Homo sapiens: one gene and its partners. The protein of the gene in region 2 interacts with the protein of the main gene of each other region in a pairwise test. Each region holds a gene or a part of one and is shown on either strand. Other genes may lie near its edges.

What was found.
Region 1: the proteins of TOP3B (region 2) and SPRED2 interact in binary tests that used the Homo sapiens proteins (3 or more experiments, as listed by UniProt).
Region 3: the proteins of TOP3B (region 2) and GPRASP3 interact in binary tests that used the Homo sapiens proteins (3 or more experiments, as listed by UniProt).

The regions. Positions count from the first base shown.
Region 1 is NC_000002.12:65,422,562-65,429,600, forward strand, and holds part of SPRED2 (sprouty-related, EVH1 domain-containing protein 2), read right to left. Parts: intron 1-7,039. UniProt on the Homo sapiens protein: Negatively regulates Ras signaling pathways and downstream activation of MAP kinases. Recruits and translocates NF1 to the cell membrane, thereby enabling NF1-dependent hydrolysis of active GTP-bound Ras to inactive GDP-bound Ras.
Region 2 is NC_000022.11:21,958,757-21,965,795, reverse strand, and holds part of TOP3B (DNA topoisomerase 3-beta-1), read left to right. Parts: intron 1-420; coding exon 421-511; intron 512-1,480; coding exon 1,481-1,635; intron 1,636-1,767; coding exon 1,768-1,873; intron 1,874-2,902; coding exon 2,903-3,049; intron 3,050-3,193; coding exon 3,194-3,367; intron 3,368-5,346; coding exon 5,347-5,475; intron 5,476-6,059; coding exon 6,060-6,209; intron 6,210-6,563; coding exon 6,564-6,664; intron 6,665-7,039. UniProt on the Homo sapiens protein: Releases the supercoiling and torsional tension of DNA introduced during the DNA replication and transcription by transiently cleaving and rejoining one strand of the DNA duplex.
Region 3 is NC_000023.11:102,723,742-102,730,780, forward strand, and holds part of GPRASP3 (G protein-coupled receptor associated sorting protein 3), read left to right. Parts: exon of another isoform or gene 1-1,120; intron 1,121-7,039. UniProt on the Homo sapiens protein: Survival and differentiation promoting protein that plays a role in the regulation of neurosynaptogenesis. Induces phosphatase PP2A activity which results in APP dephosphorylation and inhibits BACE1-mediated processing of APP.

The DNA.
Region 1 (7,039 bases), on a different chromosome or scaffold from region 2:
ACTTCCACTCATTTATTTTATCCAATACAATAATTTACACATAATTTTGCAACTGGGGCCTAAGTACATTCTAAATTCAAGTTATTCCGATTCACAGTATATCACACTCCAAATCAACACCTATAATCTAGTATCCCCAATTTTCCTTAGTACAAAAGACATCTTAGAATGGACGGTAAGGTCTTCAAAGGTTTTTTGTTGTTGTTTTTTATTTTAACAAACAGCAGAGTACTGTTCTGAAGTGTGCTCACACACAGATCAATGAGAAGGCAACCAATTATTAGGCCTTCAGGGCCAGAGGTGAGCTGTTGAGCCCAGGCACATCATTCTAGCAAGGCAGATTTGCTTTGCGAGTCTGAGCCTGAGAAAAAAATCAAACTTGACTTAACCTTTAAGCAAAAGGGAGAAATGTAATAACTATATTAAGACTATAGTCACACTTACGCTGCTTTAAAAGATCTATAAAAATGAGTAAAATTACTGGGATGTTGATAAATTAAACCTCTAGTCTAGCACTATGTCTGTATTCCCACTCCATCGTCCACTTTATTCCTTGGCTGGAAAAATAAAATGAAATGCCAAACATGGCATTCAAGTAGACAAAACATGTCATAAGCCAAGTGACTCCTAAGAGGATGGTCAGTCCCACCCATCCACACCAAGCCTACTGACTTTTGTTTTAGAGAGAATTTGAATGCTGCTGGTAATAAGGTATCTAGACCACATATCAGGAATGGCGTAGGGATGGCAGGGGAGCCAAGGATGCTATTACAGGTAGGTACTCTTACCCTAAGAGAACAGACAAGCTATAAAACTCAGAATCTCAAAAAGCACAGCCAACTGGGATCACTGAGTAAAGGGGCCAATGGTCAGCTGGGCATTATTGATTATCACAGTACAAAAACTACCAGGACACCATTAGAAAGCCAAAAGAAACAGTCAGTCTTAGAACATGACTTCTAAATCCTAATTATCCTCCCACAAGCTCCCTGAGGAGCCTTGAGCAAGTCATTTCAGCTCTCTAAGGTACAAAGTGAAAATCTTGTTTCCTGCCTTGTAAAGTTCATGGATCTCCTCTGCCTTGTAAATTCTGAAAAGAAAGAACACCTTATTACATGATGGGGGACAGACCTGGGGTAGATGGATGCTACTGAATCTCAATTTCTCAGGTGCTGTGCTAAAATGTTTTACCAAGGCTACCTCATTTATGCTTTTTTTTTTTTTTCTTTGAGATGGAGTTCTGCTCTTGTTGACCAGGCTGGAGTGCAATGGTGCAATCTCTGCTTAGCACGATCTCTGCTTGGCATAACCTCCGCCTCCCAGGTTCAAGCGATTCTCCTGCCCCAGCCTCCCGAGTAGCTGGGATTACAGGCATGTGCTAGCATGCTCAACTAATTTTGTATATTTAGTAGAGATGGGGTTTCTCCATCTTGGTTGGGCTGGTCTCGAACTCCTGACCTCAGGTGGTCGGCCCACCTCGGACTCCCAAAGTGATGGGATTACAGGCATGAACCACCATGCCTGGTCCATTTCTACTTTTTAACAGCCTATTAGGTATACAGCAGAATGAACCTCATTTACATTAATCCAGGGCTGGTGGCTTGGGATACTTAGCAGGGTCCCTTAGTGGCAGGGGAAGAGGTACGGTCTCACTCCAAAGTCCATGATTCTTCCACTACCATCATGGCAGCCTCTCCTTTAGTAGTTTTGAAAAAGCAACTCAAAGTCTTTTTTGGATATAGGTATCCAAAAAAGATAATTGTTAAATTGTGAAAAATTGTTAAATTTTTATACACGGTACAATTATTTTTTCAATTAATGAATAGTTACTTCAACCAATTGATAACTGTTTACAGAAAGCCTACTATGTGCTCAGTGTTCTGCCAGGCCATGGGTATGAGGGTTAATAAATTATTCTCAAAGGGCATGGTGGTGTACACCTGTGGTCGCAGCTACTTGGGAGGCTGAGATGGGAGCACTGCTTGAGCCCAGGAGTTCAAGGCTCCAGTAAGCCATGATTGCACCCCTGCACTCCAGCCTGGGCAACAGAGCAAGACCCCATCTCTAAAAAAAAAGTAATAAAAATAAAAGATAAAGCTATTCCCATGCCAGGTGCAGGTGGCTCATGCCTATAATCCCAGCACTCTGGAAGGTCGAGACAGGAGGACTGCTTAAGGCTAGGAGCTGAAGGCCATCCTGGGCAACGTTAAGAAGACCTCACCTCTACTAAAAATTTAAAAATTAGCCAGGTGTGGTGGCGCACACCTACAATCCCAGCTACTCAGGAGGCCAAGGCAGAAGGATCACTTGGAATACTCCAGCCTGGACAACAGATCAAGAGTCTGTTTCAAAAACAAACAAACAAACAAACAAACCTATTCCCACACCTAGAAAGACAGATGGGCCAAGCTTCTCTGTGCATTCTCAGTTAGTATGGATGCAAATACAAAATAAACAGTGCGTATCTGAAAAGTCAGTACTGGAGGCCAGAGCCAAAGCAAAGCAGTAAGAAAAAGAAACAAGAGGAATAAATAATGAAAATGAAAAGACAAAGATGTCATTACCAGATGAACAAATGAAAGTCAATTAAAAACTTAACTGATAATTAAGTTTTAAGCATTTATAAATGGACCACAGGAAATATATCAAAGAATAAAAACAACCAGATCTGAAAAATCGTTATTTCAGGACACAGAGGAGCCAAAACCATACATTTTAGAAGCTCCCAATATTTGTTCTAATCTCTTCAATCACAAGTGTTAAATGCTAAGGGTGAAGTCAAAATCTGTTTCTTTACCTTTACCCTCTAAGTGCAAGTAAACACAGAAAGTTTGTTTTTAAATAAATATTCAACTACCCTTTGAGAGTAGCAGGAAGAACATAAGCACAATTTGATAATACGTGTGCAATATGCCACATGTGAACATAATGTTGATAAAGGTTACATGAGAAAGGGAAATGGGTAGTTATGAAACAATTGTTACTTAATTTAGCAAACTCCCATGATCCTGGCCTGACTTTCTTTCCATGACATGGGACATATGTCAAGATGTAACAATCCTTCATGTCTATCCAGGGAAAGCATATAAAAAATATATTTTGTTCCACGGGGCACTGGAGCATCAATACAAAATATTTCTTCTACTTCAAAGTCACTAAGAGCCCTAGAAAATGCCTTAAAAGCACCATCACAATGTTCTAGATTTAAATAGTAATTTTTAAATATTTCTAAGAATAAGTTATCAAGTTTATTGAGATGACGGGGTCTTTTTAAAAAACTCGGCCTAATTTACCTTAGTAAAAACAAGCCCAAACAAATAATCACATACACCAAAACTTTCTGGTCTGCCTCTATTATCACTTGTTCAATTTCTGAAAATTTTGCTGTTAGACTGTATTTGTGTTCAGCCGGCAATACAAGAATGATGCCAATATTGGAGTTCATCAGCACAGCTGTATCCACCCTCAAGTGTTAAGACTCCAGCAGAACCCTGCAGCTATTGAAAATTGTTAATACTGTGATTTCTGCAGAGATTCTCCTACAGAGGCATAGAAACAGGCCCTGTCTTATTGTGGTCAAGATTTTTTACTTGTCAGTTCTCGCAACAATGAATGGAATAAAAATGGGTTTTGAGTTACCAATGACAGATCACTACCACCAGATAGTTCTGCATGGAATTTCCACAAAATACCAGAGGCTCAATGTGAACATGGTTGAGTTTCTCAGGAGGCTTATATATATATATACCCTAAGTTAACCAAATACAACAATTGTAATTATTGCATTAGTCAGTAGGGATGAAACAGCACTTTAAAATAATTAAATCCATTATTTTATTCAATAGACATTAAGCAACCACAATGTGCCCAATGGTGTTGGGCCAACAACTAGAAAACTAGGCATTTGAGAAGTAACCTTGAATCCAAAAAACTCAAATTCGGATGCAGAATCTAGCTGGGTATAAGCCCAACTTGAAATAATAATTGCCATGTAATGTAGGGAAAAAAATAATACACACAGACATTGATTTTGACTTGCATTTTGACTTTGACTTGATTTTGACTGGGAGGAGGGGGTTATGGTGGGAAAGTCAAAAAGGACCACCCAAACGCAATGGCTCAGAGATGGCTGGGGGCATGAGCAGAATGTCACCTACTGGAGAAGTGAAGGAAGAAAGAAGAGAATTTCAGAATAAAAGCAAGAGTAAGCAAATTGCTAAGGCAAAACAGTTTTGGGTATTGCTACTGATCCACTTTGTATATATTGTACTGGATAAAAGGACAGGAAAGCAGAGGGGACCAGCTTTAGTTAGAAAGGAGGTTGCATTTGCTAATATTCCCATGGAAACAAACCCAGACCACAACCAGCTGATGGAGCTTAGTCCACTCCAGGTCTACCACCTCACTAGCTGTTCAGCCTTGCACTAGGCACTTAAGTTTATACTATGACAGGTCCTAGCTTACAAGCTCCTTAAGGTCTTTTCAGGTTTTTTTTGTTTTTTCTTACTTTTAAGATTTTTTTTTCCTGGAGACAGGGTGTCACTCTGTCGCCCAGGCTAGAGTGCAGTGGTACGATCACAGCTCATTGCAGCCTCGACCTCCTGGCCTGAAGCCATCCTCTCCCCTCAGCCTCCTGAGTAGCTGGGACTACAGGTGTGCGCTACCACACGCGGCTAATTTTTATTTTTTATTTTTTTGGTAGAGACAGGGTCTCACTGTGTTGCCCAGGCTGGTTTTCCTGGCCTCAAGCTATCATCCTCCAGGCCTGGGTCTCCAGTAGTGTGGGGATTTTCTGAGGAATAAATCAAGATTCTAATTCTGCACAGTCAACTCCATATTTTTAACATTTAAGGGTTCTACTCATGTATAGTAGAACCATACCCCCTGGTAGAAACATACCTCCCTTTTTAAGGCAAACACAAAGAAAATGGATCAATACTCACTGTATCGGTTTAATTTCCACAACTGTTATTTCAGTTAACATAGATCTAACATTCCAATAATAACCAACTCTGAATTTGCACTACTCCCATTATCTTTGAGGTGTATCACAGAATTCTCAAGCCCAAATTTATTTAAATCCATTTTAATTCAGTATGCCCCTCATGCTTCACAGCATTTTCTGGGAAGATAAGTGAAGTGAGAAAAATGATGGCAATGACAGATTGTCACCAGTTCAGAAGAATAATGAACAAGCATGATTGGCAGAAAGGCTGCGAGCTCTGAGTCAGAACGACTGAGGCTGGACCACCCCAATGGTTCATAGTGGTTAGTTAAGAGCACAGAGACCTTCCTGAACCAGGCTACTGGAGTGCTCCATTCCCAGCTCCTTCAGTTACTCACAGGATGACCTTGAGGAAAGGACTTCACCTCTCTGTGCCTCACTTCTCCCTATTATAATAGGGATAATAATACCAACTACCTCGCAGGATTTTTAAGAAGACTAAATGAATAAAGTGCTTTAAAAAAATGTTTGCTGTCTCGGGCAACTAACTTGACCTTGGCTTTCTCATCAGTTAAATGGGGGTAATACCTTCTTCACAGGGTTATCTGAAAATGAAGCTCAGCCTGAAAGAAATCTATCTCAGTGCCCTGCAAAGAGCCACATAGGGCACCTGTTTTATGCCTAGCCCTGTACTATAAGCTTTACGTAGGCTGTCTCATTTAATTCTCACAGCAGCTCCACAAAATAGGTAGTGTCTATTCCCATTTTGTCCACTCCATATAAAACTGACATGACATATGAAAGTAAACTGCCTTAGATCATAAAGTGAGCAAATGGCTAAGCCTTAAGCCTTAAATACACGTTACAAACGCATTTAACTCGGGGTCTTCGATTGGTCTCTGGCTGAATAACCAGTTATAAAAGACATTTTTGCAGACAATTCAGGCAGAGTGTTAAAGACACCAGGGAATTATTAATTTTGTAAAATGTGATAATAGTATTGTGGTTTCACAGAACAGTATTTTTATCTCTTGAGAAGTAAGCTCAAATATTTAGGTACAACAGTCCCAATGTCTGCAATGTCTTTGAAATGGTTCAGCAAAAATACTTACACCTGTTTTATTAATGGGAAACATTTCAACGTTAGGGAAAATATGACTGAAAGGGAAGCTGCAAATCCATTCCCAGCAAGAAGTGGGTTACAGAGAAGAGTTCATGAAAGGAACAAAAGAAAAAGCTGAATGGCAGCTCGATGTCTCCAGGGTTAGAGCTTGGTTCAGTAAGGTTTATCTTGTCTGCAAATTTCCAAACCATTCATAGCCATGATCAAACGCTTTAAAGATAGTGACAAAATAGGTATGGATTTAAAAAAATTTTCCAACCCTATGCACAGAGGACGACTTACAATAGTTTGCTGATGCTCTTCGCTTCTTAAATTATATTTTTAAAAGTCTGTATAATTGTAAATTTTAACATGCATTTTTATGTGGAGGGGGGACGAAAGAGAATGGTCAGTGTATTTTCTATATGGAAGATATCTTTTGGGACCATTATCAACAAGAGCAAAGAAACTTTCCTGAATTACCATATATTAGAAGAATTTTAAATTGACATGGAAAACAACATTAGAAAACAAAACATTATTTTTTTAAATTAAGCACAATTTTACCATTTGCAAGATTCTGATTTACTGCATTCTGATGCTAAATGAAACAGATATTATCTGGACCATTCAACAAAACCTTTACTACATGTAGACTATCAAGTCTATTTTACCTAAAGTACAAATATATCTTTCCTAGGTCTCCAGTTTGATGCCACCAGTTCTCTTAAGTAGCAAACCCTGCCTGGTTCCAAAGGTATCTGAGAGACCTCAAACATAAAATCATTACAAGAAAAAAACAGATCAAATTCACCCAAAGTAGGAATCTAGCAAAAATCTAACCAAATATGGCTACCTTAATCAAACAATAATTTTAGCTCTAGACTTAAAGACAGTGGCAGCAAACAACAATAAAACAACAAAAAAGCAATCACAGCAAGCTCTGTAATTCAGAGAGAAAAACCTTACTGTCACTAACATTTAAAAGGAAT
Region 2 (7,039 bases):
ACCTCCCAGGTTCAAGCAATTCTGCCTCAGCGTCACGAGTAGCTTGGATTACAGGCACGTTCCACCATGCCCAGCTAATGTTTGTATTTTTAGTAGAGACGGGGTTTCACCATCTTGGTCAAGCTGGTCTCGAACTCCTGACCTCAGGTGATCCACCCGCCTCAGCCTCCCAAAGTACTGGGATTACAGGCGTGAGCCACCACACCCAGCCAAAATTTTTTTTTAAAAAAGAATTTTCATTCTTTTTCCTTTCCTGGTCCTGAATAAATATTCAATCAAGTCTTTAGACTGTTGGGAAGAATGAATTGGAGAAACAGGGAGACCAGATGAATGAAACCAGACCCTTCGTCCACACATCTTGATTCCCTCTATGGTGGTGTCTTCCTCCTTCCCCAAATCATTGACTGTCCTGTCTTCCAGGTGGAGGCCACAAGCAGGAAAGAAAAGGCCAAGCAGAGGCCCCTGGCCCTGAACACTGTGGAGATGCTGCGTGTGGCCAGCTCTTCTCTGGGTATGTAGGGACATTTCTCTCAAGTCACCAGAAGGCTTCCTGAGGCAGGTTCAGCCTGGAGCAGCGAGTGCCCAGGGTTGCAGGATGGTGCCCAAGGCTTCAAGGGGATCTGAGCCTCAGGAGGATTTCACTTATCCTTAGGTTGTAAAGGTGGTAAAGTTGGTCACCACCTGAGGGGACCTCCTGATGTTAGAGTCCCTGAGCAGCTATCCCTGGTGAGGGGAGAGGCCCCAGCCAGATGTCACCTTCAGGGAACCAGTGTGAACGTCGCCCCTCAGCCTCATCTCCTCAGTCTTTTCTCCTTAGTAACGAGGAGGGGGTTGGGCTGGAAAGCTGGTGGTCTCTGGCAGCTGTCAGCCCCTAGGCATTGGTGCCCCCCACCCCCGCAGGGAACTATGGGCAGTGTCCTCTCAGTGGACACTGAGTGGTGGCTCCAGCGTCCTCAGAGGGCAGCAATGCTGGGAGTGGTTGCTAGCTAAGCGCCTGCCTCTGCTGGTCAGGGAGTAGCAGGACGAGCCCCCCTGAGTGGCCCCAAAGTGCTGTGAGGACAGAAACACCCAAGGGCTCAAAATGGGGCTGCGTGCTAACTCTGTCGTCAGCCAACCCCGAGGTATGGTTATGGCTCCATGGACAATGCATGGGGAGTGGTGCTCTGAAGGCCATGTGTCATCCCCATGGCCATGAGCCCCATGAGGATGCACCGTGGGGTAGAGTGAGTGGCGTTTCCCATCAGGCCCATCCTGGGTGTAGGATTCAGCCTTACGGGTGCGGGATTCAGCCTCATACAAGACTGTGTGGCATAGGTGCCCACCCGGCCAGCAGCTTTGCACTCCAGCTGTGCCTGCTCAGAGCCACCGTCACCCTCCAGGAGGGGCCGGCCACAATGGGGGAGCCTGAGTGCATAGGCCAGGGCAGGCAGCTGGCCATCCCCACGTACCTGGCCCTCTGAGAACCTCCTGTCTCTCGCAGGCATGGGGCCGCAGCACGCCATGCAGACGGCTGAGCGGCTCTACACGCAAGGCTACATCAGCTACCCACGGACAGAGACCACCCACTACCCTGAGAACTTTGACCTGAAGGGCTCTCTGCGGCAGCAGGCCAACCACCCCTACTGGGCCGACACGGTGAGTGGAGCCGGGCCGGCCTCAGCATGTGTGTGTGTCACTGAGGCCTTGGGACCAGGTCTGGTACGTCAGCCAAACCCAGGCAGGCAGCCGAGCCCAGCCACAGACTCTGCTCTGTCTTCTCTCCCTCAGGTGAAGCGGTTGTTAGCAGAAGGTATCAACCGCCCGCGGAAAGGCCATGACGCCGGCGACCATCCCCCCATCACCCCCATGAAGTCTGCCACAGAGGCCGAATTAGGTACCGCTCTCATCCCATACCCGGTGTGCTTCCAGGGAGGGAAGGGCGAGCTGCGACAGTGAAGGTTGCAGGCCCTGTTGGCAATGTGGGGGCTCCTTCAGCCTCTGCCTGCCCTGGCTGTGGGGATGGGGGGCCACCTGGAAGATGAGCTCCATTGCTATGGGACCAGGACAGGAGTGAAGAGGTAGCAGCAGGTGCTGTTGCAGGGAGGCAAGGGGGCAGACGCCACAGGGGACATGAATGAAACCAGGGTAGAGAGTGGCGGTGTGGGGGAGGGGGCAGCACACCTCCTACCTCCCAGCTGGCCTAAGGTGGTACCAGTGGTCCGAGTGCCAGGAGAAGGCAAATGAGGAAGGGAGAGCAGTGCAGGTAGAGACAGGAGCCACCTGTGGACAGTCTGAGTTTGAAGCAATGGTGTCATGTCACGAGACAATGGAAAGACAGGCCAATGCCTGAAGAGCAGTCCCGCCAGAAGCAGGGACAGGAGGTTGTGCAGGATGGTGGGAGCCGCAGCCAGAAAGAAACCACTGAGGCATGGAGGCTTGTGTTCCCTTCCTCCGCATTTGCTTTTTTTTTTTCTTTTTTTGAGACAGAGTCTTGTTCTGTCACCCAGGCTGGAGTGCAGTGGCCCGATCTCGGCTCACTGCAACCTCTGCCTCCCAGGTTCAAGCAGTTCACCCTGCCTCAGCCCCCCGAGTAGCTGGGATTACAGGCTCCCACCACCACACCCAGCTAATTTCTTTGTATTTTTAGTAGAGACGGGGTTTCACCATGTTGGCCAGGCTGGTCTCAAACTCCTGACCTCAAGTGATCCATCCACCTTAGCCTCCCAGAGTGCTAGGATTACAGGCATGAGCCACCACGCCCGGCCTTCCTGCACATTTTCTTTCCTCCTTCCCCAGGATTTGCAGTGTGTCCTGCACAGCGGCTCTGTAAGCAGGAGCTTGCTGCTCGAGCGAGAGTACTGGGGGCTCCTCACGGCCAGAGCCCCCAGCTGGCTCCCAACTGACTAGCCCTGGCCTGTTGCAGGGGGTGACGCGTGGCGGCTCTATGAGTACATCACCAGACACTTCATCGCCACGGTCAGCCATGACTGCAAGTACCTGCAGAGCACCATCTCCTTCAGAATTGGGCCCGAGCTCTTCACCTGCTCCGGGAAGACCGTCCTCTCACCAGGTCACACCACGGGCCCAGCCTTCCTCCTCTGTGCCTTCATGGGCAGACAAACATTCTACATCGTGTCTGGGGATGGGAGGCCCAGGGTCTGAGGCCCCGGCCACCCAGGCTGGGGACCCTGAGTGGCGGCGCATATCTCTCCAGGCTTCACGGAGGTCATGCCCTGGCAGAGCGTGCCCCTGGAGGAGAGCCTGCCCACTTGCCAGCGGGGTGATGCCTTCCCTGTGGGCGAGGTGAAGATGCTGGAGAAGCAGACGAACCCACCCGACTACCTGACGGAGGCCGAGCTCATCACGCTCATGGAGAAGCATGGCATCGGTGGGTGCGCCTGCCCAGGCCCCAGAGCCGGCTCCGTCTCCAGTACTCAGGCTTCGAGTCTACTCACAAAGCTGCCCCGCCAGCCCTGTGTGCCCAGCCCAGCACCCCTCCATGGGCTGGTATCTGGAAACTGGTGACCCAGTGTGTGGCCAGCCAGGCAGGTCCACAGCGGGCATCCCCTCCTGAGGCCTCCATTCAGGACCTGGCCTTCCCTGTGAAGGCCCAGATGTGCCCTCGTGCACTGTGGGGTGTGCACACACCGACTAACGCCCACAAGGCTGAAGATTGGCCCAGATGCCAGGTGACTCATAGAAATCATATTGGCAGTCCCCTGAGTCCACACAGCCAGCCTGGGCTGTCCTGAAATCAGGTGACAGGGAAATGAGATCTCACAGGAGCTGCTTCCCTGGGAGAGAACAGAAATGCCTGTCCCAGGCACAGGGCTCCCCAAAGGGTGACCAGGAAGTTTCCACGCAAAAATGGGCAGCCCAGGGAGTTTATCAAAGCAAAAGTGTAGTCACCAGTGCACACTCCTCACAGGAGTGGTGGCCTCACAAGTCCCCAGGCCTGGAGCTGTGAGATGTCTCACATGTTGGGGGCCAGCCTCACTGCCGGAGCCTTCTCCCCAGGTGGCACTCGCGCCGCTGGGCACTGCCTGTTCCCTGGGGCACTACCCCTGGCTGACAGGCTCTGGAGACCTGTGGGATGTCACAGCCACTGTGTCCAGGCTCTGCTCCAGCAGTGGTCATATAGGTGGACTCTCAGGGAGTGTCTCTTCCCAGGCTGGGGTCCTGGTGACCATGGCGATCTTGGCAGGAGAGCAGAGCTCTGGGCTTGCTCCTCTCAGGGGTCCAGGGCACCTGCCAGGGTCCTGAAATAGCCCTCAGCCCACTGTGGAGTGTGGGCTCTGCTCCCCCGTGTCCTCTGCCCTCTCGCATTGATGGGACACTGGCTCCTGGCAGCCCTATGCTAGCCAGTGAGCCAGACCCAATCACCAATACAAGTTTGTGACAGTGAAGAGGGCTCTGGTGTTACCTTCTGAACAGGAGAGTGGTCAGGGTGGCCCTGTGACTGAGCCCCCAGGAGTGTGTCAAAAGGGCCTGACCAGAGCCGCCACAGAGGAGCCCACACCACGCGTCATGGCGCCCGGCAGACTCGGGGTGGTAGTGGCACACGCCACCCACAGCCTGCCACACCGGGTGCAGAGCTGGCCTCGTGCCAAGAGCCATGGGCCCTCGGCAGGCTCCTTAGCCCCCAGAGGCCAGTTTCTTCCCATGTGAGATTCTCTCCGAGCTACTTTGGGAAGGTGTGTGTCACCTGTCCATGCTGGTGAGCATGCAGGGAGCCCCAGCCTCCTTTCTGCCCCTCTGACTGGCACCCGCCATAGTCAAAACGCCTCAGCCTCCGCTGCGCCCCTCTGCCAGGAAACTTCCTCTGGGTGGGAGAGTGGAATCCTGGGGACTGGGAGCCTCCCCTGGGGATCGTGACGGGCCTTGCAGAGAGGGAGGAGGTGGGAGACAGGAAGTGGACAGAATTGTCCAGGTTTAGGGGAGGGCAGCTCTGCAGTGAGCTTGTAAGCACCTCCGTGTTCTGGTGGAGTGGGGCTCTGGCTCCGGGAGCAGGTGGGTGCCACAGGACCCAGGCAGGAGAAGCCATAGAAGTCACATTTTCCAGGCGCAGAATAAGCACTGTGACCTTGGAGAGTTCCTTAACCTCCGAGCCTGTTGTCTCTGCCATAAAGCAGGAGTAGGCGCCCTGTACAGGGAGGGCTGCCCTTGTGTTCTCAAGGCAGAACATGAAATGCATGCAGTTGGTGCCCAGCACAGTGCAGGGGGAGCTCAGGGCACAGCCCTCCCTCCTGTGACCGGGAGCAGTGAGAGGGCCTGAGCACCAGGGGCCCCGTGACAGGTGATACAGCACATGGTTCAGTGGGGCATGTCCAAGGCAGGCCAGGAACCCTGGGGCCTTGTACATTGCAGGCACGGATGCCAGCATCCCTGTGCATATCAACAACATCTGCCAGCGCAACTATGTCACGGTGGAGAGCGGGCGCCGGCTCAAGCCCACCAACCTCGGCATCGTCCTGGTGCACGGCTACTATAAGATTGGTGAGTTCCTCAGTCCTGCCCCCAGGGCCCACCGAGGCTCCCTGGCTTCTCCCTGGATGTTGGCTCTGCTGCCCGCTCCAGACAGGCCCCTGCCCTACAGTGATCCCCCAGCCCCACACACACTCCCTCAACACCCGCTGAAGGGGTGCTGCCCCAGGACCCCCAGGACCTGCCCAGAGCAGGAGCTCAGTGTGTTTGAAGGCTGAACAGATGTGTGAGGGAACCAAAAAGGGAGGCGAAGTTGCCTCAGCCCTGTTCCCTGGAGGTTCCCCAGGGGCCAAGGGGAGAGGGAGGAGCACAAAACTGGCCCAAGGGCGGCCTGGAGCTCATGTGTGATGTGGTTCTAGCCACAGGACATCCCTGGCCACTCTGCCTGACATTTCCAGGTGGGAAATCAGGAAAGGTCTGGGGTCATAAGAGCCAGCCTGGTACCATCTGAGGCTGTGGACTGGTGGGTAGGGCAGAGGCCAGGAGGACGGGCCAGAGCGGGAGGGGTGAACAGGGCAGTATCCCTGCCTGGGAAGGGGTGGCATGGCCCTGGGTGCGAGTGCTCAGGGCAATATCTGCCCCCTGCCCACTTGCAGATGCAGAGCTGGTGCTCCCCACCATCCGCAGTGCAGTGGAGAAGCAGCTGAACCTGATCGCCCAGGGCAAGGCCGACTACCGCCAGGTCCTGGGCCACACCCTGGACGTGTTCAAGAGGAAGTTCCACTACTTTGTCGACTCCATTGCTGGTAGAGTCTGCCTCTGGCCTGCCCCTCACCAGAGGGGTGTCTCTCTGTCAGCAAGGCCAGTACCTGGGGACCCAGGTCCCCACGTGGGACCAGCTCCCAGATCTGGGCTTCAGGCCTCCGTAGGCCAGGTCAGTGACACCTCCTGGCTGGGTTGAAAGAGCAGGTGCATTAACACCACACATGGCCAGGAACACGTGCCTCTGACGCACAGGGCTGCTGCCCTGCCGTGCTGCCAGGACAGTAGAAACCACCGCCTATAGGGACCCTTTCACACTCAGACCCTTGACCACGTGTTGCGGAGCCTTTTGCTGGGGACTGGGAGGGAGATGACTCCTGCACTCTGCTTGCCCGCAGGCATGGATGAGTTGATGGAGGTGTCTTTCTCGCCCCTGGCGGCCACAGGCAAGCCCCTCTCACGCTGTGGGAAGTGCCACCGCTTCATGAAGTACATCCAGGTAGGTGCAGGGAACACTAGCTCAGGCAAGCTGCCTCACCCCTGTAGGCCTCAGCTTTATCGTTGATCAGCAGGAATCATGTTCTTTGTCCTGGTTGTCACAAAAGAATGATGGAACATAAAGAGGCCTTGCCAAAAAATACCCAGTGTCCCCACGTCCCCTAGAATACACAGCCATTAGGCCACGCAAACACACATGGTGCATTTTTCCCTAACACCATGCCACTTGCCATCATGGGCATTAATGTACACACAGAGATTTTAGAACTGCCTTTTCTGCACGCGTGGAGCAAGAGCCAGAGACTCATGCTCCTTGCCTGGCAGTGTGTCACAGGTTCTGCATGACAGATTACATACTTTGTATTATGAGAGGAGT
Region 3 (7,039 bases), on a different chromosome or scaffold from region 2:
AAGGACCAACCATGTGATTAAAGGGTTGGAACTTTGGGCCAGCTCAACCTTCAGGGAAGGTAGTGGGGCTAGGTATTAAGTTCAATCACAACCAATGGTTTAATCAATCTTGCCTATGTAATAAAACCCCAGTGAAAACTTTGAACTTCAGGGATAAGTGGAGCTTCTTGGTTGGTGAACATATTGTTCTCTAGGGAGAGTGGTGTACCCTGACTCCATAAGGAGAGGGTATGGAAGCTTTGTGTCCAGAATGCTTTCAGACCTTGTCCTGTGTATATCCTTAAATGAAACTGTAATAATAAGAATAGCACTTTTCTTGAGTTCTACGAGTTGTTTCAGTTAATTATGAAACCTCATAATGTCATAGGAACTCCTGAATTTATAAGTGGTCAGTCAGAAGCATGGGTGGCTTCCTGAGAATTGGGGCTGGTATCTGATCTAAAGTGGGGGCAGTATTGTTGGTGATTGTGCCCTTAAACCTGTGGAGTCCAATGCTAACTCCAAGTAGTTGGTTTCAAATATTTGATATCAGAACAATAGTGTAATTTTCCCTAGTTTTAGCAGCCACACCTAGATTAATATACATAAAGCTTACCTTTGCTGTGTATTCTACATCAACAAGTTAAAATGAAGGATTCAGACCCAACAGTGTATTATGGGTGAAAAAAGCAGTCTGTTTTTGTGGCATGTACCTGTAATTTAGATAATTTTTAAAATTATCTATGTATCTATTTATCTATATCTATCTATGTGTCTATCTATCTAATCTATCTATCCATCTATCCTGTCATCATTTTTTTTCTTATCACAGCTCCCTTAGCCTAGAATTCCTGTTGTGGGTATTGCATTTATATTTAGAAAACTTCAAATTGTGGCCTGATTAAATACTTCTAAGTCCCAAATGTACTCCAAAGCAGATACTTAAACAGTTTATGCCTGTAGAATTTTTTAATCTCAGCCGAAGAGCAGGGTGACTGGTGTGTGTGTGTGTGTGTGTGTGTGTGTGTGTGTGTATCCAAGCAAAATGATGATTGCCTTTGTTCTGACTTGTAGCGGGTAGAATCCTTCCTCAATTATTTTTCTGGGGTGTAGTTGAAATAAAAACTTCATCATTCACTCAGTCCTCTTGTTCCTTCTCCCTTTTTTGATAAATATTATGGGCTACTTTATATAATAGAGGCTACTTCAGATGTCACTTGGCCTAAAATGTTGTTGTGTGGGGATAGTATCAGAGTGAATTTTTCATCTGTCTAGTCTGGACTTTTAGCAGCCACTAATTCTCAACTCTGCCCCCAATTTCAAAAGAGCAACCTTCAATGGGATCTCATCTATAAAATACCACCAGATTTTCTATCAAGGCTTTCACAACCTTGCACCCTTTAATACAAGTCTGCCTTTCTATCTCCATCTCTCATAACATTCTTCCAAGTCAAGGCCAGGACTAGAATGAAATGAAGAAAGAAGCTCTTGTTCTCAAGTGCCTCACACTATTCCAGGCCTTGCCCCACTTTGCCTGCAGTCAAGCCCCACTGGAAAATCTGTTGTTTTCCCAACTGTATTGTGTGCTTTACTACTTTTATGCCTTTCCCACATGCTGTCCCTTCAATCTTCAATGTTCTTACCCTTTTTCTGTCTATGGGAAACATCATTTGGGCTCAGTTCAAATGCCAGGGCCTTTTTGAAGTCTGATACCTCCTCGCCCTTATCCCTTGCCCCTTGGTAGGAAGTAATTCCTCCATTCTTTGTACTTACACAATATTTTATTTGCCACTTGGCCACTTGTTTCTTTTTTTTTTTTTTTTTGAGACGGAGTCTCACTTCGTCACCCAGGCTGGAGTGCAGTGGCACGATCTCAGCTCACTGCAACTTCTGTCTCCCAAGTTCAAGCGATCCTCCTGCCTCAGCCCCGCTAGTAGCTGGGATTACAGGCACACACCACTGATTTTTGCACCATTAATTTATGCCCGGCTAATTTTTGTATTTTTAGTGGAGACAGGGTTTTGCCATGTTGGCCAGGCTGCTCTTGAACTCCTGACCTCAGGTGATCCACCCGCCTCGGCCACCCAAAGTGCTGGGATTACAGGCGTGAGCCACTGCGCCCATCCCACTTGTTTCTTTATACCATGCATCAGAGTCTTTTTATTTTTTTATTTTTATTTTTTAATGAATAACATAGAACTAGTGTTGAGGGACAGGAAGCATAGAGAAAGAAGCTTGGACTCTGGAAGTGTGATTCAAACCCCAGTCTGTCTGACTGCAAAGCCTGAATGTTTACTACTTAAAATAGTAATTTGTGTTAATATTAAGATTTATTGGATTTATTGGGTGATTTCTATGTGCCAGGGTACTCTACTAAGGGCTCTAAATGTATTCACTTAGTTAATCCTCAAAACAAACTTATGAGGTAGGTGCTGCTATTGTTTCCATTCTACATATGAGGAAGCTGAGGCACACATTGGTTAAGTAGCTTAGCCAACCTCACTGAGTTGGTTAGCAGAGGAGGTGACATTCCCACCTTTGTGGTTTGAATCTGGAGCTGATGTGCATTACTTCTATGCTATGTCTATATTCCTCCAGTGCTAGTTATCAATAAAAGCATCCATGATCATTGTAACTGTTTTTACAATCAGATCTTCTGTTCCTCAAAGCTTGTAGCAAAGTATTTATCATAAAGAAATTAAACCTGAATATTGTTAGACCTCCTGTCCCTTATCCTTTTTTCCCTGTTTATCAGCCTATTCCACCCTTTCCTTCCTTCCCAACCCAATGCCCATCACAGTACTTATTTTTACTACTCTTCTACCTCATCCTCTAGTGCCTGGCTCCACTGTCCTGGAGAAACCCCAACTCTGGATAAATCTCAAGTATCTACGACTTTCTATACCTTTGTTGTTTAGTGCACCTGGGAAAATTAATCATATTGTTCTAACTGTCGACACTGTAAATGTGTCTTTCTCAATATCAGCACAGTCCCCTGAACTGAAAGCAGGTAACCTTTGATATCTTTATAATCTGGATATTTCACAAGGGTGCACCTTCACACAATGATCCTCTGAATTGAAACTAGGTTTATCTATTATCTTAAGTATTTAATGTACCTCTGGACCTCCTAGATAAGTCAGAGTTTGGCTTCTGCCTAAAGCTTTACTTTTTAATCTGGAGCAGAAGCCAAACAGTTGTCAGACCTCTAGCAATCATTAGGACACGTGTTGAGAATTTCTGGCTTTTCTTTCCTGGGAAACATGAGTTCTGCTACTGCAGATGTAGGTGCTCACTGATGCTCACTGATGGACACAAGTCAGGAATTCTTACTCACTGAAGAGCTGTTTTGTGCCTGAGCACATCTAGGATTGTTCCATTTTCATATAACAAGGAATTCAACTAAAACTAACTTAATAAGGAAATTAATTATCCAATGATTGTAAGTACTGACGTAGGGCAGCCTTGATGGTTGTTTAATTCAGCGAAGGACTCAGCTTTTTTCCGTCTCTTTCTTCTGCCATTCACAATATCAACTTCCGTCCTAAGGCTGATAGCTTGATGGCTACAACAATTCCAGGAGGTAAGCAACTTCCTGAGGAAGAAGAAAAGACAATCTTTTCTGATGACTTTGTCTTATGAATGAGGACACTTTCCTCAGAAGTCCATCTGTAACCTTCCCCTAATGTCACATTGAGTGGAATTTGATCAATGCCTCTTCCTAAACAAGAGAGTACCAAGGGGATAGATTATCCGTAGACCAAAGAGACTCACTCTTGGAAATGGAATTAGCCTCTCTGTGACATGTGACTAAAAGGAGGAGAAAGTCAGTAACCTGCAGTGGCAACTATGCAAAAATGGCATCCTTTTAGTAAAGGGTTATGGTAAGCAACACAGAATATACAAAGCACTGAGGCTACAGCACAAAGAGCACAGTGACACTGACTTAGCAATTATGACCTTTAAAAACCATGTAGTTCTCATCTATTCTTTCTTGCTTTCTCCAGCCCACTCCATAATAGGAATAGATCAGAAATTTTAAAAGAACTAGAAAGATCTGATATACACATGTTGTGCAGGATATCAAATAGTTTTCTCAGTATACACAATAATCCTGTAAAGTAGTTAATGCCAGCTCCCTTTTAAGGATGAAGAAACTGGGTTATAAAGACGTTAAGTACCTTTGCTAAAGTTACACAAATAGTGACAAAGTCTGTATTCAGACTTTGGACTGTCTGGCTCTGAAATCTGGGTACTCCCAACTCTTCTGTACAAACTCCCTTTAGAATGTACTCCCAGGGCTCAGAAACTAGTTACTCTAGTCTAAGCAAGCACTTAACAATCATTAGGCAGTTAATGTAAACTATAGATTCTAATAGTATCATGCACTGCCTCTTGATGGTGGTGGTGGTGGTAGTGACATAGACAACTTTTCTCTCCTAGCATTAAGTTACAGTTCCTCAGACTTCATTACCAATAATATATATATTTTTCAATTTTTAAAGATTTTTTGTAGAAACAAGGTATAACTGCATTGCCCAGGCCAGTCTTGAATTCCTGCACTCAAGTGACCCTCCCACCTTGGCCTCCCAAAGTGCTGGAATCACAGGCATGAGCCATTGTGCATGGCCATTACCAGGAATTTTGATTCAGGAGGTCAAAAGTCTAATTTGCATTGCACATTACAAATTTTTGGGCTGAGATGTCAGGTTCAGGGAGCCCCATAAATTTCCTGTACCTGGGAGTGAAAAGAGCTAATATTTATGGAGCAGCTGGGTTTTCCAGGGCAACCTAATTCCCAGATGTGATGTTCAGCAGAAAAGAAGCAGACAAAAGCAATGTGCACTGCTTTTTTTTTTTTTTTTTTTTTTTTTTAAATAGAGAGGGGGTCTTGCTATGTTGCCTAGGCTGCTCTTGAGCTCCTGGACTTAAGCGATCCTCCCACCTTGGACTCCCAAAGTGCTGAGATTAAAGGTGTGAGCCACCACACCCAGCCCATTTTAAATTTTTTATTTTTTATTTTTCACTGCTCTTTAGCTTCCCTGTTAAAACCCATAGCCAGACTTCCAGTTTCAGTTCCAACATGTAAGAACTTGTAAGTCATTGCTCCTGTACTTACAACCAGAAAAAAATCTGAACAAACAGAATCAACAACATTTCTTAGATTCTTCAAAGAACTGAGGCATAGGACAGTTGACTACCCCAAATTCTGAAGGCAAATCCAGAGAGTCACAGCCTATTTCTTCTTTCATAGAACAGAAACTGCTAGAGACATAAATAGGTAAGAGCACTTAAATGTAATTTTGATGAATTGCTGGAGACTGAGTGTGGAATAATATGAGAGTGAGAAACCCCTGAGGATCTGCAGTCAGGGAGGTCCCCACACTTTTGTGGGCATTACTTCCAAGAAACCCACCATATTCTTGCAGTGAAGGGCCTCATGGCCCCTGCAGTGGGAAGGGAACTGTACTTTTGTGAAATACACCCAGAGCCTTCTTCATTTTTTAAAAAAAAAGCCTATTCTGTGGTGGAAAAGACTTTATCAGAGCCTTATCTCAGCTGAGGGAAAGGCGTTTCTCCTATTTCAGCCCCCTTTAGGTTTCTAGTCTCATGTAAGGGAGAGAAAGGCGCTAAAATAAAACTCTTATGAAAATCAAAGCCCAGGGACACAGGCCCACAAAAGACTGAAATTTAATCATAATATTATAGAACACTTCCTCTCCTCTGCACTTCACCACCATGCTAACAAGGCTTTATTATAATAATAGTGGATAACAGTGAATAACAGTTAAAAGAGCTGCAAAATGTAAACTCTCCCTGAGAAGAATATTTAGGGAAATGCTAGAAATCAAAAATACTGTAACAGAGCCCAGGCACAGTGGCTCACGCCTGTAATCCCAACACTTTGGGAGGCTGAGGTGGGTAGATCACCTGAGGTCAGGAGTTCAAGATCAGCCTGGCCAACATGGAGAAACCCCATCTCTACTAAAAGTACAAAAATTAGCTGGGCGTGGTGGCGGGTGCCTGTAATCCCAGCTACTCAGGAGGCTGAGGCAGGAGAATCGCTTGAACCCGGGAGGTGGAGGTTGCAGTGAGCCGAAATTGTGCCACTGCACTCCAGCAAATGAAGAATGCCTTTGATGGGATTATCAGTAGACTGGACACAGTTGAGGAAAGACTCAGCAAGCTTGAGTAGCAGTCCCCAATCTTTTTTGGCACCAGGGGCAGATTTCGTGGAAGACAATTTTTCCATAGACTGGGGGGCGAATGGCATGGTTTCAGGACAATTGAAGTGCATTACATGTATTATGTACTTTATTTCTATTATTATTACATTGTAATAGATAATGAAATAATTATACAATTCACCATAATGTAGAATCACTGGGAGCCCGGAGATTGTTTTTGTAAAGCTAGATGGTCCCATCTTGGGGTGATGGGAGGCAGTGACAGATCATCAGGCATTAGATTCTCATAAGGAGCATGCAACCTAGATCCTTCACATGTGCAGTTCACAATACGGTTTGTGCTCTTATGAGAATCTAATGCCACTGCTGATCTTCCAGAAGGCGGAGCTCAGGCGGCAATGAAAGTGATGGGGAGTGGCTGTATATACAGATGAAGATTTACTGGCTAGCCCGCCACTCACCTCCTGCTGTGTGACCCAGTTCCTAACAGGCCATGGACGGGTCCAGGTCCGTGGCCTAGGGGCTGGGGACTCCTGAGCTTGAAGATAGGTCAATAGTGTAAACTAAAAAGTATGTAAGACATGTCTCAATTGATTTAGAAGTTTATTTTGCCAAGGTGAAGACATTCCCAGAAGAAAAGAGCATGGAATCACAGAAACAGTCTGTGGTCTGTGCCTTTATCCAAAGATAATTTTGAGGGCTTCAATATTTAAATGGAAACAGCAGGCTAGAGGGGAAGAGGGAGGGTACAGTAATCCACATGATGCAAGGGAAAAGGAGCAGAAACAGGAATAGTCAATTCTGTATTCCTCTGGCTCACAGTAAATCAGCACTTTACATAAGGTAAGGAAAATGTGTAATATCTACCTGTG